2 separate regions of the Homo sapiens genome follow, and region 2 is linked to region 1. Evidence: fine-mapped expression QTL. Tissue or cell type: caudate. Region 1 holds a variant in brackets; the other region holds the start of a gene. All regions are shown on one strand. Distances are between the middles of the regions.

The links. PIP is the estimated chance that this variant, and not a neighbour inherited with it, causes the effect.
Region 2: ATP2C2 starts here. The variant in region 1 is fine-mapped to the expression of ATP2C2 in caudate (GTEx, PIP 0.98).

What each region holds. Positions count from the first base shown.
Region 1 is chr16:84,341,095-84,349,394 of GRCh38, reverse strand. No RefSeq gene overlaps it. Among named protein-coding and RNA genes, the nearest start is that of ATP2C2, 23 kb to the left of the region's middle. The variant T/C (reference allele first, on the strand shown) is at 3,404.
Region 2 is chr16:84,363,976-84,371,975 of GRCh38, reverse strand. It overlaps ATP2C2 (ATPase secretory pathway Ca2+ transporting 2), which reads right to left and starts at 3,438. Exons shown (of 27, transcript NM_014861.4): 1 at 3,262-3,438. The coding sequence starts at 3,360.

The DNA.
Region 1 (8,300 bases):
GATTTTGTATTTTTAGTAGAGATGGGCTTTCTCCATGTTGGTCAGGCTGGTCTCGAACTTCCAACCTCAGGTGATCCGCCCGCCTTGACCTCCCAAAGTGCTGGGATTACAGGTGTGAGCCACCATGCCTGGCCACAGTCTGGATTTTGCTGGTTGCATGTTCCCAGTGCCGTTCTGCCTATCCCTCTGTCCTCACTATTCCCTGCAAATTGGGATCCAGAGGGTTGCCCAGCCTCTGGATGGATGGCTTTGGTTCTGTGCTCCTGCATCAGGAGGCTCAGGATGCCTGGGGAGCGTCTCTCTTTGTAATGTACTTGTCGTTGCTCAAAGCCTAGATTCACTAACTCACTGGGGATTGCAAAACTGTACTACTCCACCATTGCTTTTAAATTTATTGATTGGAATACTTCTATAAAAAGAGGCATTTCTTCATCTGCAATTTTGTTACCGATTGGTACAGGAAAGGCAGAAGAATTGCTGGATTCCTTCCCTTTATTAGCCACTTTTCAAGATAACATGTTGGTTTCTCATCATCCTCTGAAAGTGATCAGATAGTCTTTATATTTTTTATTTTTCTTTTTTTAAATCACATGTACATATGCAAGTTTTAAAAATACATTTGTGAACTCGTGAGTTTAAACATAGGTGCATTTCCATCCATTGCAAATATTATTCATATTGAAGCTCACATGGTCACACAGCTTTGGCTGGTGGGAATGACTTCGGATTGGCCCTGAGTTCTTTGGCATAATTCTTTGCTATCTGGTGTAATAAGATAATTCAGCCTTGTCTTGTACACTGGCTGGCACCTTTCCAGTCCTGGAGTCAGCTATTTCTCCAAGACACCGTGCTTTTTAATTTTAGTGTTTGAAATGAGAAACGGCATTTCAAGACCATAATTGGTGTGTTAGGCTACTGAGGCGACTACTTTTTCTAGGCCTTTCCAGTGGTCAGGGCTAGCTGATATAAATATAAAATAAAAATTTTTTAAAATAAAATATCTTGGCCGAGTGCAGTGGCTTACACCTGTAATCCTAGGAAGCCAGGGTGGAAGGATCACTGGAGCCCAGGAATTTGAGACCATCCTGGGCAAAACAGCGAGACCCCCCGTCTCTACAAAACATAGAAAATTAGCTATGCGTGGTGATTGCACCTGTAGTTCCCACTACTTGGCAGGCTGAGGCAGGAGGATCGCCTGAGCCTGGGGGGTCGAGGCTGCAGTGAGCTTTCCTCATGCCACTGTACTCCGGCCTGAGAGACAGAGCGAGACCTTGTCTCAAACAAACCAACCTCCTGAGTTCATATCATGAACCTCTGAAATGTCTGCGTTTGGATCAGCCGTCTCATTTCATAACTCGTTGCCTTATTCAGTTGGAATTTCTGTCCTTCCCAAGGTGTAAAGCCTATGAGTTTTCTTTGCTAAGATGGACAACTGGGGAGGTTTCAGTGTCTCCCTCGTGCATGAGTATAAAGGAGACAAGGTGTCTATCCCTCTGCTAGACAGAGTTTGAGAGCCCATGTCCTTTTTATTTATTTATTTTTTATTATGAGACAGAGTCTTGCTCTGTTCCCCAGGCTGGAGTGCAGTGGTGCGATCTTGGCTCACTGCAACCTCTGCCTCCCGGAGTCAAGCGATTCTCCTGCCTCAGCCTCTCGAGTAGCTGGGATTACAGGTGTGTGCCACCATGCCTGGCTATTTTTTTTTTTTTTAATTAGAGACAGGGTTTCACCATATTGGCCAGGCTGGTCTCAAAATGCCTGACTGCAGGTGACCCACCTGCCTTGGCCTCCCAAAGTGCTGGGATTCCAGGCATGAGCCACTGTGCCCAGCCCCATGTCCTACTTAAATCACAGTACACAACTGGTTTCCTGAGGCTTGGGGACAATCAAACCTGGGACAACGGTGGCACTGGGGTTTGCTCAGAACCCAGCCCTGACCTCCTGACCCTCTGCCTTCCCGGGTGTCTGGGGAACCCCACACTCCTCAATTGCTTGAGTCTCTCGTCTCCCCACTGGGCCTGGGGAGGACAGAACATTCTAGAGACTTCTGGAGGCATCTCAGCTCTTCCAGCTAGTGGGCCCCCTCTCGTCCTCTCCGGGGTTTTGGGAAGCAGGTCCCCAGGGGTTGCTTGTGGGGCATCTCAGGAGCATTGCTCCGGGCAACCCAAGCTCAGTCCTCACCACCTCCTGCCAAGTCACCGCCTGCAGCCTCCCCACCTCGGAGACGCCTGCTCTGCCTGGAGCCCTCAGGTTGAGGGCACCCTTTGAGCCCCTCTTTAATCCTGCACTCCCCAAAGCTGTAAAAGAAGCCCCCAGTCTCCTTCTGTTCTCTCCCAGCCCTTCCCTTGCACAACAGACTCCTAGTGACTTGCTGTGATCTCACTCCCGGGGTCCTATGGCAGCCTAGCGATCCGGCCATCTCCGTTTTGGTAACAGACATCGCCGTTTTGGTAAGAACAGGACATCTTTGCCTTAACGAACGCTTTCTATGCACTAGGAACCATTCTAAGCAGTTCCTGTACCTTAGCTGGTTTGCTCCTCATGAGCAGCGTGTGAAGCAAGTGCTATTATTCGCACACATTTTATGAAAGAGGAGACCAAGGCACAGAGGTCACCTGGGCAATGAGAGGAAGAGTCGGGTCTTACTTGCTGACGGTGGGCTCCAGGGCCAATGCATCTAACTGCAGGACAAGACTGCTCAGGACTAGTCCTCAGCATCCTTTGGAGAAGAAGCCAGAACATGCACAAAGAATAAACTGATTGAGGCCGGTCACAGTGGCTCATGCCTATAATCTCAGCACTTTAGGAGGCTGAGGTGAGCGGATCACTTGGGGTCAGGAGTTTGAGACCAGCCTGGCCAACATGGCGAAACCCCATCTCTACTAAAAATACAACAATTAGCCGGGTGTGTTGGCGTGCTTGTAATCCCAGTTACTCTGGAGGCTGAGACATGAGAATAGCTTGAACCCTGGAGGCGGAGGTTGCAGTGAGCCGAGATCGTGCAACAGCACTCCAGCCTGGGTGACAGAGTGAGATCCTGTTTAAGAAAAATAAAAAATAAACATAAAAGAATACCCTGAATGCAAGAGTGGAGCCATCTCTTTGTGTCACCTGTTTCTCTCTAGAGCAGCAGTTCTAGAACTGGGGTTGGCATCAGGATCACCTGGAGGGTGAGTTAAAACACAGATTGCCATATCCTGTCATGAGATTAGGAAAAACACAGAAACAAATGAGGTTTGCCAGGTCCAAGGCTGCAGTATCTGGCTTAACAGGTCTGGAGTGGGCGTGAGATTCTGCCTTTCTAATGCGGACTCTAGTGACATGGATTCTGCTGGGTCTAGGAACCTCACTTTGGGAACTGCTGCTCTTGTAATTTTTTTTTTGAAACAGGGTCTTGTTGTGT[T/C]GCCCAGGCTGGAATGCAGTGGCGCCGTCACAGCCCATTGCAGCCTCCACCTCCCAGGCTCAAGCAATCCTCCCACTTCAGCCTCCCAAATAGCTGGGACCACAGGTGAGTGCCACCACACCAGGCTAATTTTTAAATTTAATTTTAAATTTCACGTAGATATGGGGTCTCCCTCTGTTGCCCAAGCTGGTCTTGAGCTCGAGCAATCATTCCACTTTGGTCTCCTAAAGTGCTGGGAGAGCAGGTGTGAGCCACCGTGCCTGGCCTCTTGTGAACTTTTGACCACTGAGGGAGACGAGGACTAGGCTGGTACTGCCCTGGTCCCTCCTAGGATAAAGCTGTGGTGGTCCCAGCTGGAACTTCCCAAACCAAGTGGTCTAGTGATAATGACCTCATGGGTATGTTAAGAAAGAGAAATGAATACATTATCCTCATGTATTCAAGATGCATATTCTGATGCATTTGCAGGTGACATAAGTGATATCTGAGATTTGCTTTAAAATATTCCAGCTCCTGTTCCTGCAAAAAGTTGAAGGTAAAACAGTGGCAGCTGGTGAGAAGTGCAAAGCCACCTAGTACACTGTTTTTCATGCACTGTTTATATTTTAAAATGTTAATAATAAGCCTTACTTCACGTAGACACAAAATGTTCTGGCTCCCTGACTTAGTAACTATTTGACCTAGAGTAAGAGGCTGACTTATTAGGATATCGAAGCCTTGGTTCTTTCTCCCATCCAATGGGGATACTGGCATCTTCCCAGCTGGGCTGGTTGTTGAGATCACGGATGCTGAGTGGCACTCAGCCTGGTGGGTAGTTAATGAAGCTGTAATTACCCGAATTTGCTCTTTGCTCACACATTCTGCAGTCCCCACCTGGCCAGGGAAGGCCCTCCTGTGCCCAGTGTGTAGGGGTACTGTCCATTTCAAGGCACCTGCTCAACGGGTTCCTGGGTTGAGTGTGGAACTTGCCAGAAACCTGCCCATCTGGGAGTAGGAGGTGTGGGTATGGGATGCATGACAGAAGGCCTGTCGGCCGGCACAGCCAGGAGGGCTGCCTAGGAGCTCCCGTGGCTGCCCCACACCGAGGTTCGGGCCTGCTGGGTTTTTCTTTACGTGGGGACAGGGTCTGGGGCAAGAATTCCCTGGCATCCAGATCAAAGGGGTTTCCAATAGAGTTCATGGGGCTCTTGGCCTGCCAAACTGTCTCAGTCGAAGTGTTTTCTGAGTGTTGGTTTGGTTTGGTTTTGATTGCAAATAACAGAAATCCACGTGTGCTAGCCTAAGCCAGAATCAGGGGTGCTGGCTACCGGGGACCATGGACTCATTGCCTGGAACCCAAGTTCAAAGAGGGCAGCCCCATCTCCTAACAACTGGAAGCAAGTCCTAGAAAACTGTCATGGTGGCTGGGAAACCAAAGAAAATGGAGAAGGTGGCTTTTCTTTCTCTGTCTCTCTCCTCTCCCCCGCTCCCTGTCTGTGGGTCTCTTTCTCTCTCCTCTTCCTCCTCCTCTCTTGGTTTCTCTGTCTCTTTCTCTCTCCCCCTCCCCCTCATATCAAAGATTAAAGGCAGGAGCTCCAAGTTCCATCCTCTCTGTTCAGACAGCCACCAGGTTAGGACTAAGTTTTGCCCAGCGCTTTCCGAGTGCCAAACCTACATCAGGAAGTGTCACCATTTCCTCCATAAGCGGAACACTAAGTATCACTTAGTTCCACCATAGGCCGGGAGGAAAGTGCTGGTTTCATCTTTCTCACTTCCAGAGAAGGAAATGGAAGCAACACAGAGAGGTTCACAGAGAAGTGGTAAAAGAAGCTGCCTGAACCCACGCCGCTGAATGCCTCAGTCCGGAGCCAGGCTCTAAATCACTTGCCCTGTGCATCACCTTCTAGCATCAAAGACTCAAGAGAAGGCCAGGCACGGTGGCTCACACCTGTAATCCCAGGACTTTGAGAGGCCGAGGTGAGTGAATCGCCTGAGCCCAGGAGTTCGAGACCAGCCTGGGCAGCATAGCGAGACACCATCTCTACAGAAAAATACAAAAATTAGCCAGGTGTGGTGGCGTGCACCTGTGGTCCCAGCTACTCAGGAGGCTGAAGCAGGAGGATCACTTGAACCCAGGAGGTCGAGGCTGCAGTGAGCCATTATTATGCTACAGCACTCCAGCCTGGGCAATAGAGTGAGACCCTGCCTCAAAAAAAAGGAAAAAAGAGCTGGGTGCAGTGGCTCACGCCTATAATCCCAGCACTTTGGGAGGCCGAGGCAGGCAGATCACGAGGTCAGGAGATCGAGACCATCCTAGCTAACACAGTGAAACCCTGTCTCTACTAAAAATATAAAAAATTAGCTGGGTGTGGTGGTGGGCGCCTGTAATCCCAGCTACTTGGGAGGCTGAGGCAGGAGGATAGCGTAAACCCAGGAGGCAGAGGCTGCAGTGAGCTGTGATCGCACCACTGCACTCCAGCCTGGGCAACAGAGCGAGACTCTGTCTCAGAAAAAAGAAAAAAAAGACTCAAGAGCACATTCTTGGAAGGGAAATAGAATTGGCTCAGCTTGAGTCAGGTGACATGTTTCTGGACCAATCAGCTGTAGCCAAGGAGGTGGGTCTCATACGAAGACCATGAGGACCCCGGGCCCAGCGTGATGGGACGGTGGGCCTGGCACCCAGTCCCAAAAGCCTTGCTTCCTTCCTTTCTCCTGGATAACCCACCTCTGCCTGCCACAGACACCCAGAACCCTGCTGCCTCCATCTTCCCACTCATGCAGTTAGATGAGGCCTGAGCTCCAATCCCACCCCTGCCATTTCTCCAAGGATCCGCTCTTGGGCAAGTGACTTCACCTCCCTGGGCCTCAGTCTCCATTTGTGAATGGGGCCATAATTCCCACCTCTCAGGGGTGTGGGGAGAGTCGGTGACATAATGACCCAGGTAAAACTTTCAGCATCTCCACATTATTTTCAGGGGTGAGAAAAAAGAAATGGCTTGGAGTCTGAGCTTCCTGGGATGTGCAGAATTCATCAGGCTCGGAAAGACGAGAGTGTGGGACCTCAGTCATGCCGTCACCCCCAGGCCTAGGGGTAGTTAAAGGCATTTTGTTCCTGACTTGCTGCCTCACCCGCTATCTTCATGTTCTGGGAATTTGTGACACAAAGAACAATGCCTAGCCAAGCAATAGTTTCTATTATTTTCATATAAATTCTTGGTAAACAGCTTGGGAACTGCCTTTCCTTTTTTCCTTTAAAAACCTACTTGTAACTGCTGCTGAGTGGACTTTATATTCAGAGCAGCTTGAGTCCATACTCTCAGGTTGAAATCCTCAAGCTTGGCCCAAATAAACTCTCTACTTAATTTAACTAAGTAATTAAGTCATTTTTTCCTCCGTTGTTTTTTTTTTTTCCTTTAGGTCAACAGGGTCAAGTTCAAACTCAGCGTGTGAACCGGCTGGCACCTGCTTAGCTTTCTAGCCCCACATCCTCTCACTCTTGGGTGCCCCCTTTCCCTGGCCATGCCCACCTGCTTGGAGGTCCTTGAACTTCTCTTCTCCATGCCTTTTTCAATGTTCTTCCCTCTGCCTGGAATGCCTTTACCCCTCTTCCCTCTCCTGACCTAGCCGCTTGCTCCCTGCTGGGGGTTCAATGACGTCTCCCCAGAATGCCCATGTCCTAACCCCCAGAACCTGCGGATGTGACCTCATTTGGAAATAGGGACTTTGCAGATGGGATGAAGTTAAAGGTCTCAAGAGGAGATTATCCTGGACTTAAGAGGGCCCTAAATCCAATGACAGGTGTCCTTCAAAGAGAAATCAGAGGGAAATCTGGGACACGGAGACAGAGGCAAAGGCCACGGGAAGACGCTGCAGAGATGGGAGAGGCACATCCTCAAGGCCGGGAGTACTGAAGTGGCCGGCTGCCATCGGAAGCCGGGAGAGAGGCGCCGGGCAGATTCTCCCTCGAAGCCCGGAGAGAGGCACGGGTTGGATTCTCCCTTAGAGCCTCCGGAATGACCCAGCCGTGTCAACACCTTGGTTTTGGCTTTCTGGCCTCCAGAACAGTGTGAATGCATGACTGTTGTTTCAAACCACTTGGTGTGTGGGCATTTGTTAACAGCAGCCACAGAAACTCATACTCAGAAACTTTGCTCAAACGTTGCCTCCTCTGGGAAGGCCGCCCTGACTCCTCATCTCGACTGGAGGCCCAGATCCCAGTATGACCCTCTCCTACCTCTTACCTCGGTGGCCATGATCAGCGACGCACCTGTGTGGCTTCACTCCAGAACGTAAACTGAAGGGCGGGATTCCCTAACGGCTTAGATTACAGCAGCCTCTCCCAGAGAAGTCCACAGTCTAACAGGCCTCGCAGCTGTCAACAAAAGATGGTTCTGTAATGGTGGAACTTCAGGCAGCTCACAGGGGCCTGCAGGAAGGATGTTTTGGGGGCTGGGCTCCTTTTCACTCAGGCTCCTACTCCAGGTGTCTGCACGGGAAGAACCTCTGTGGGGGCTGTAAGATCAGGTTTGTCCTGAAAGACAGTCACCTGAAATGAACCCACCTGCCTTCTCTTTGGACCAACTTACTGATATCTGTGAGAATGTTCTAGAAAAAAGGCTCAGGGTGCGAGCTTATACTGGCAACTCAGATGGAAAGCAACCTGGGAGGGAATGTGGCCACATCCGAATAACCAAAGTCCAAAGGGATTATTATTATTATTATTATTATTATTTTTCTGAGACAGGGTCTTGCTTTGGCATCCAGGCTGGAGTGCAGTGGCACAATCATGGCTCACTGCAGCCTCGACCTCCTGGGCTCAAGCGATCCTCTCACCTCAGCCTCCTGTGCTGGGACCTGAAGTTGTGCACCACCATGCCTGATTTTTTTTTCTTTTTTTTAAGAGACAGAGTCTCACTTT
Region 2 (8,000 bases), 23 kb before region 1:
ACACGTTGGCATTAAACAGTGAACTGTGACCAGTTGCTGGGTGCCTGTCTCTGCCTCCTGGTTGGGATACCTGAGGGTAGAGAACTGTGCATCCTTATCAGCCCCAACTCCAGCTGGTAGCACTCACTTGACACACAGAGGGAGCCCCCTCCGTGAATCTAGGTTGAATGGATGGGTGGTCACTACATTCGTCTGTTGGGATCCAAGCCTCACCCTGGAGAGCCCAGAAGGATGCATCTGCTCACCAGCCAGGAAGGCAGTGGGCTGGGGCTATACCTGCCTCACTTAAGAGATGGGAGCCCTGAGGGGCAGAGACAGCTTCCCCCGGAGTTGGCGCTGAGTCACCTGGGAAGCAGGAATTTCTGCTCCAATCTCTTCCTTACCCTAATGTTCAGGTCAGCAGTGAGAAGCTTTTTCTAGTAACTAAATTAAGGAGGCCTCTCAAAGACCTTTTTGTTGTTGTTTTGTTTTGAGACAGGGTCTCACTCTGTTGCCCAGGCTGGAGCACAGTGGCATGATCACAACTCACTGCAGCCTTGACCTCCCAGGTGCAAGCAATCCTCCTGCTTCAGCTTGGTGAGTAGCTAGGACCACAGGTGCACACCACCACGCCTAATTTTTTGCAGAGATGGCATCTGGCTATGTTGCCCAGGCTGATCTTGAACTCTGGGGTTCAAGTGACCCTCCTGCCTCAGTCTTCCAAAGTGTGGGGATGACAGGCATGAGCCACTGCGCCCGGCTCAAACACCTTTCTTTCCATTCCTGGAAATGCTGAAATCCAGTCTCCAGTGCTTCTAACATGGGGTCGTCTCCAGTTCCCCTCTCAACCACCAGTCCTCTGTCTGGTCCTCTACTCTTTGATTCTCCAGTGCACCTGAGACCACTGGGTCTCAAATAAAGCATCTCCCAGTTTCTCAGCTGACCATTGGCCTCCTTTATGAACTTTGTTTTGTACACATCTGTATCCTCAGCGCCTAGCAAAACTGGCTGTCAGGAAATGCTCACTGAGCAAACAAACGTGGCCCCACTAGGAGCCTCACATCCTCATTGATCACATGACGAGAGTAAAATTTACCTTGGAGGTAAGAGGCCCAAGAGAAGACACAGCAAGTTCTCAGTAACAATCACTATTAGAACTGGGGTAACTGGTCAAAGTGGCTGGGGGAGGGGAGGGCTTAGAGGCCTCCTACAGGCATCCTGGATGTGGCATGTAATTAGTGCTCATAAAAGACGGTTCTATTGAGGAGTGAAAATGGAACCCCTAAATAAACTAGTATGAAATAACGCAAAAAAAAAAAAAGACAATTCCAACTATTGTAGAAGTGATCACCTCAACACACATCGCCTCCTTTCCAAACCCTGGGAGAAAGGAGTTCCAACGAGAGGACATGAGTATGACAGCAAAGGAGGTGTTCAGGTCTGAGCCAACCTGGCAGGAAGTGAGTGCCTCGCCCAGCCACCCGGCCTCCCCACCTCCCTCCCTCCTCACACTTCCCATCGATCTTCATTGCCATTTCCTGGGTTTGCACATTTCCTGGGTTTGCACAAGGCTGCCTCTGGAGACAGCATGGCTTCTTTCTCAGCTGGCCTTTGGTGTCAGTGCTGGTATCACCCGCCTCCTGGCGCTGCACACTGCCCATCATCACGCACCCAGGGCCTCAGGATGCTGCTGAGAGCACCCCGGTCCACAGCCAGGTGGGAGAGCACACTGACAGACCGGCTGAACACCTGTCAGACCTCTGAGAACTCTCCTGCAAAGCTTTGGAGGGACGAGTCCACCTGGCACAGAGATCAAACTCTCCCAGCATCTCCCTTGAGGTTACATCATCCATGCACCTGCATTCCTGGACATCCTGTGAAACCTGATGGTAACCAACTACACACCAGGAGAGTTTGAAAAATACCTGGCCTGATGCAAGAATCAAAAGATGGAAAGGAAAAAACAGGAATGGCAACATAGGAAAGGCAACCTGTGATGGCAAATAAACTTCAAACTCCTTTAGCAGAATGTATCGCAGAAGCAGAGAAATGGATCACAGCCAATTAATTGAACTCTATATCCTATCAATATTAACATGCCACTTCAGAAAAATCGAGATTGCTCAAAAACTGCTAGTTACGTGGTCCTGTGGCCTACCACCCTAAGACCAGAATTCTTACATCAACAGGGATGTATAAAACACTATTTTTAAAAAAGCACAAAACACTATTTTTAAAAAAGCACGAATACTTAATCTCACAAACAAAATGTTTTGACCATTAGTATTCTTTGGGAGAAAAAAATAAAATTTTAAGTCAAATATTTTTTCAGCTAATTTCTTTTTTTAATTAAAAGGTAAGTTTACCTTTGAAGTTTCCTTTCACTGGTCAAAAGGCCATCGCCAAGTCATATTTCTAATTAGCAACCCAGGGGACTCGTTCAGAAATGTTACTTTTGAACGACTGCTTAAGCGTAAATGAAAAAAAAAAAAGTGCAACGACCCTCTGGCGTGCAGAGAAACGCTTCTGCAGAAATTCAGTGCCCCCCTGACCTTAAAGCATGCAACGAGTTCTGTTTGCGAAGCTAAAAAGAAGGGTGTTGGGTCACCCTCAAGCCTGGCTTCACCCCTGGCTTCCAAGAATCCAAGGAACAGGAGGGGCTTTATTTGACAGCTTTGCCACTTCGTTCCCTCATGAACCGCCCTGCCCTGGCACCCTGCTGCTTTATCCCAGAGGGTCCCTGAAGGTTGCAAAGCAGGCATACAGCTCTGAGTGACTTTCTAAAAGTACCTGACTGTAGGAAGTGAGGCTGGGAGGTCCCTCAGCTCCAACTTTGCTTTCTATTATTGCTACAACATTTCAGCAATCTTTTGTTTTTTGCATCCCTCTAATTTTATTTTCCAATTTAAGTTTTAAAAATCCATAAAGCAGCCCAAGTCTGGAGACCCAGGAATTTTAATTCTCTGGAGTCAGAGAAACCTAGGTTAAGTTCCCAGCCAGGTCACTTCCTAGCTCCGTGCCCCTTAGGGAATATACTTAACCACTCTCGGCCTCAGTTTCTCAACCACAAAATGGGTTCACGTGAGGGTTCCATGCTGAGCTCCCCGCGCCAGAGCGCAGATGAGAGCGCGGTTGCTGTGAGGACAGCTTCTTTCCAGAGCCAGGGGAGGAGGGCGAGTTCGCGGATCGCAGCGCGAACGCGGGGTCTCGGGCCGGGGACGGTTACGACGGAGGGGATGGGGGGTCGGGTCGCACGCCCGGCGCGGAGTCGCGGGGACTCACCAAGGCTTCCTCTTCGTCCTTCTCCAGCGCCTGGTACTGGCGGCCCCCGCCCGAGAAGCCGAGTTTCTTCAGGAACTCGGAGACGCGTCCCTCGACCATGGTGAGCGGGCGCAGGCGTTGCCTGCGTCCCTAGGTCCCCGGCGAGGCCCGGGATGGCTGCGCGCGCCCAAGCCTCCTGGGCCGGACCCGGTTACCAGGTAGCTGTCTACCTGCCCGCGGCAGGTGAGGCCCCGCCCCTGGGGCGGGGCTGCGCACAGGGAGGTGCCGGCTCACCCGGCCCCGCCCCGCGAGCTCGCCTGGGACCCCAGGGGCTCTGGGGACAGCGCCGGCTGGCCATGAAAGGCCCAGGGAGAGGCTGCGTCGCCTCAGGGCTTGGGCTGTTTCCCAAACTTACAGATCCTAAGAATCACCTGGAGTGGGGGAGGTGGAGGAGCAAATGCTGGTTTAAAATCCGGATTCCCAGACCCCTCCCTGCCCAGTCACGGTTTGGAGCCGCCGGGAGCTGGGTTTTTAACGAGCCCCAGGTGATCCTCTTGAGGAACCCAGGGTGGGCGGCTCTAAGGCGCCGGGAGCGAGGTGGCTGGAGCTCAGTCAGACTCACACCTGCGGCTGTGCACTCTGGACGGGTCACGTGGCCTTTCTGAGCCTCGGCAACCTAGCCTGTCATTGAGCGGGGAGCAGCAGAAGGCTAAGACCCCCACCTCCAGGGCCCTGGGAGTGAGTCCAGGAACAGGAGCGACTGAGAGCCCTGCTGCCTTTGGCGCCTGCATGGTCTCGGATGGTCAGGGCCCCTGTCCTCGTCTGCAGGATGAGCGCCGCTCTTGCTCGTCGTGGGACCTGAGCAGGTTTCTTATATTTTTAGCGCCTTGGTTTACTGCTCTGCAGAATGGCCACCACGATAGCGCCTCCTTCACAGTGACATGGAGAGGCCCCAGCGGACAGTGCTGTACAGGAAGGTCTCGAGCAGGGCTTGGAGTAGAGAATGTGCTGGTGTCCCCATGACACCATCCTCCTCCTCTTCATCATCAGAAGGTGCTGGGCTCAAATGGCTCCCAAAGTATGTGAGTCCATACGCAGTGTAGACAGTTGCCAGCAGCCAAGTGGGTGCTTTGAAGTTCCAGGGCTTTCTTTGGCTTCAGGTAGGACTAGATCCGTAACTAGACCCACCACTTAGCAGAGGGGGAGCTCTGGGGAAGTCCGTGCCACCCGCCTTTCCGCTGGCTTCCTCATCTCTACAGGGAAGTTACTCACGGGCTACAGGAGGTGCCCTCTGCATTTGTCCACGAAATTCAGCCACCCCTTTTGAGCAAATATTTGCCACCTACCTCAATTGCTCCCGAGGGTTGACTCCAGGCCACGAAAACCTGCAGGGCAGTTCCAGTGCCCCTTCTTGTATCTCCTGCATCTTCCTCTTTCAAGGAAACAAAGGCTACGGTATCAGCCTGGCCCCACTCCCCAGTTTCAACAAAGGTGCAGGAATAATGGTAACAGCAAACCTCTGATGTGAGTGAGTCCAGATTTGAATCCCAGGAATGTTCCTTTCCGACCTTGGGCAATTTTCTTCACCTCTCTCCACCTCAGTTTACTCATCCATAAAATGGGGATGTCACTACCTACCCGTAGGAGTCAGGGTCCCAGTAGGAAATAGTAATTTGAGGAGAGTTTGAGAAACAGACTTTTTACAAAGCTGTGGGGAAGACGTAGAGAAACCAGAAGTGCTTGTGTCATTAACGAAGACTAGCAAAGAGTGAGAAGTGGCTTTGGTCCCACCCAAGGCCTGAAGGGCCAGACGAGAGAGGAGTTACCTGGAGGGGGAGCTCTGGGGCACTGATAACTTCTGCAGAGGGCAACTGCTTAGATCAAAAGCCAGAAAGCAACAGAGCGCCAAGGATGCAGCCTCCTGGGCAGAGAATCCAAAGAAGGGTGGAGAGTGGTGTAGAGGAGGCTGGGCAAGGTGGCTCACACCTCTAATCCCAGCACTTTGAGAGGCCAAGGTGGGCGGATCACCTGAGGTCAGGAGTTCGAGTCCAGCCTGGCCAACATGGGGAAACCCTGTCACTAGTAAAAATAGAAAAATTAGCCAGGTGTGCTGGCATGCGCCTGTAATCCCAGCTACTTCGGAGGCTGAGGCAGGAGAATCGCTTGAACCCGGAAGGTGGAGGTTGCAGGGAGCCAAGATTGTGCCACTGCACTCCAGCCTGGGCAGTAGAGCAAGACTTCATGTCAAACAAACAAAAAAAAAAGAGTGTTGTAGAGGAACAAGGAGGAGACATCCCGCAGCCAACCTCAGCATCCTGTGGTTCAGGCTGAGTGAATGCTTGCACAGGTATGATGTAGTAGTACGATGTCGTGGTACCCGACATTGCAGGCTCTCAGGCGCTTCTATATTATTAATATAAAAGAACATATGGGAACTTGGCTCAGTTATTTCTCAGGTCCTTCCCAAGTGGCATTCTGTGATTTTAAAATGATGTTGGATCCAGGGAAGAAGAACGCCTTGTTGGCATCTTCATGTTTTTCCAAGCTGTTAACCAGATGTCATCTCTCCAGGCAGATCAGCATCCCCGGAGCAGAGGATTTGAAAGCCCAGCCTTTCGGATCCTATCACCATGGCTTCCGCTCCAGCCCAGAGATGTCAAGGCTGGAATTCCTGGGCTAGGTTCGAAAATGCCCAGGGCATTCCAGAAGGAAACTCTAGGTGGTGGATATATGCATGTACATTTTAGAGACAAGGTCTCACTCTGTAGTCCAGGCTGGAGGGCACTGGCGCGATCATAGTTCACTGTAGGCTTGAACTCCTGGGTTCAAGCAATACTCCCTCCTGAGTAGCTGGGACTACAGGTGCACAGAACCACACCCAGCTAATTTTCTAATTTTTATTTTTATGTAGAGATGGGGTCTTTGCTCTGTTGCCCAGGCCTATAAATTAGATTTGTGGTGTGTAAAATTAGGTAAATTAGGCTCCACCAGTGTTGGTTATGGTAAATGATGTGCCTGAAACATGGCAAATACTCCAAAAAATTTTTGAATATGTCTCCCATAAACAGCAGATCATTCAAATTTATATTTAACAGAACTTTCATATGAACGATTTGCTTTATAATAGGGAAATGTAGGCCGGGCGCAGTGGCTCATGCCTGTAATCCCAGCACTTTGGGAGGCTGAGGCAGGCGGATCATGAGGTCAGGAGATTGACACCATCCTGGCAAACACGGTGAAACCTCGTCTCTATTAAAAATACAAAAAATTAGCCAGGCGTGGTGGCGGGCGCCTGTAGTCCCAGCTACTCGGGAGGCTGAGGCAGGAGAATGGCGTGAACCCGGGAGGCGGAGCTTGCAGTGAGCCGAGATCGCGCCACTGCACTCCAGCCCGGGGAACACAGCGAGACTCCGTCTCAAAAAAAAAAAAAAAAAAAAATAGGGAAATGTATTGTGTTTACATTGTTATAGTTGTCATTGTTAGATTGACTTCTGTCATCCTCTTTCATGTTTCATTTCTGTGCCTTTTGAGGCAAGCACTCAATTTGCTGTCAATTTTTACTTTGGTTTTGGAATAAACATCTCATTGAAAGTTCTATTGGGAGCTACCTGAAAACACTTCAGAAATACAGATGAGTATTTACAGTCTCTTTTGGTTTCCTTTTCCAGATTTAAAGAAATTTTCCAACTTTAATTTTTGTTTTTCTAACCTCTGCATCCTTTTATATTCTAAGTAAGTTAATTATCCAAACTCTCTCTTTTTTTTTTTTTTTTTTTTTTGAGACAGAGTCTTGCTCTATTGCCCAGGCTGGAGTACAGTGGCACCATCTCGGCTTGCTGCAACCTCCACCTTCTGGGTTCAAGCGATTCTCGTGCCTCAGCCTCCAGATTAGCTGGGACTACAGGCATGCGCCACCATGCCTAGCTAATTTTTTTTTTTTTTTTTTTTTTTTTTAGTAGAGACAGGGTTTTGCCATGTTGACCAGGCTGGTCTTGAACTTCTGACCTCAAGTGATCTATCGGCCTGCCTCAGCCTCCCAAAGTGCTGGGATTACAGGTTTGAGCCACCGTGCCCGGCCCAAGCTCTTACCTTCTGAGTTGGTTGTTGTTGTTGTTGTTGTGTGTTGTTGTTTCCCCGTCAGTTACACCTGCTATTTATGTTTGCCTTAAACGACCTTTCTGAGCTCTGTCTGTCACTTTGTTTGGATTCCGTGGTCATCCCCACAGACTTCAAGATTCTGTTTTTTCAAGTTTTTTGTTTATTTTTTCTGCCTTCAGCCTGTAAAATGCTAGAGCCCACTTGCAAAGAATCTAACAAGGCAGTTGGCTGGAGAACTTTCTGGGGTTTGCGGCTCAACGCCTCAGAGTGATTCTGCCCTATTGGCCAACGATGAACGCCAAGGGTGGGACCCAACCAGAGGCATCCAGCCTTTCTCAAAATGTCTGCTCTGGGCACCTTGAACAATGAGGTCATGCTCTGCAACTCCCATTCACTCTCTATGTCAGAGTCGTGTCTTTTCACTGCCCACAAATTATCCCCAGCAATGCGCCCTGCTGGGAGCCAGGATGCAACCTCAAGACACCTGTATTTTGTTTGGTAACAAACTTCACTCAAAAGTTCTCTAAGCGTGGCACTGAAGACATCCTTTTTGGAAAGGGTACACTGTACAAAAGTATATTTTGTACAATTTGTTTCTAATGTTAAGAATTAGGTGGAAGTTACGGTTCCTTGCATAAACCCTCGATTCTGTTTGTTTTGCA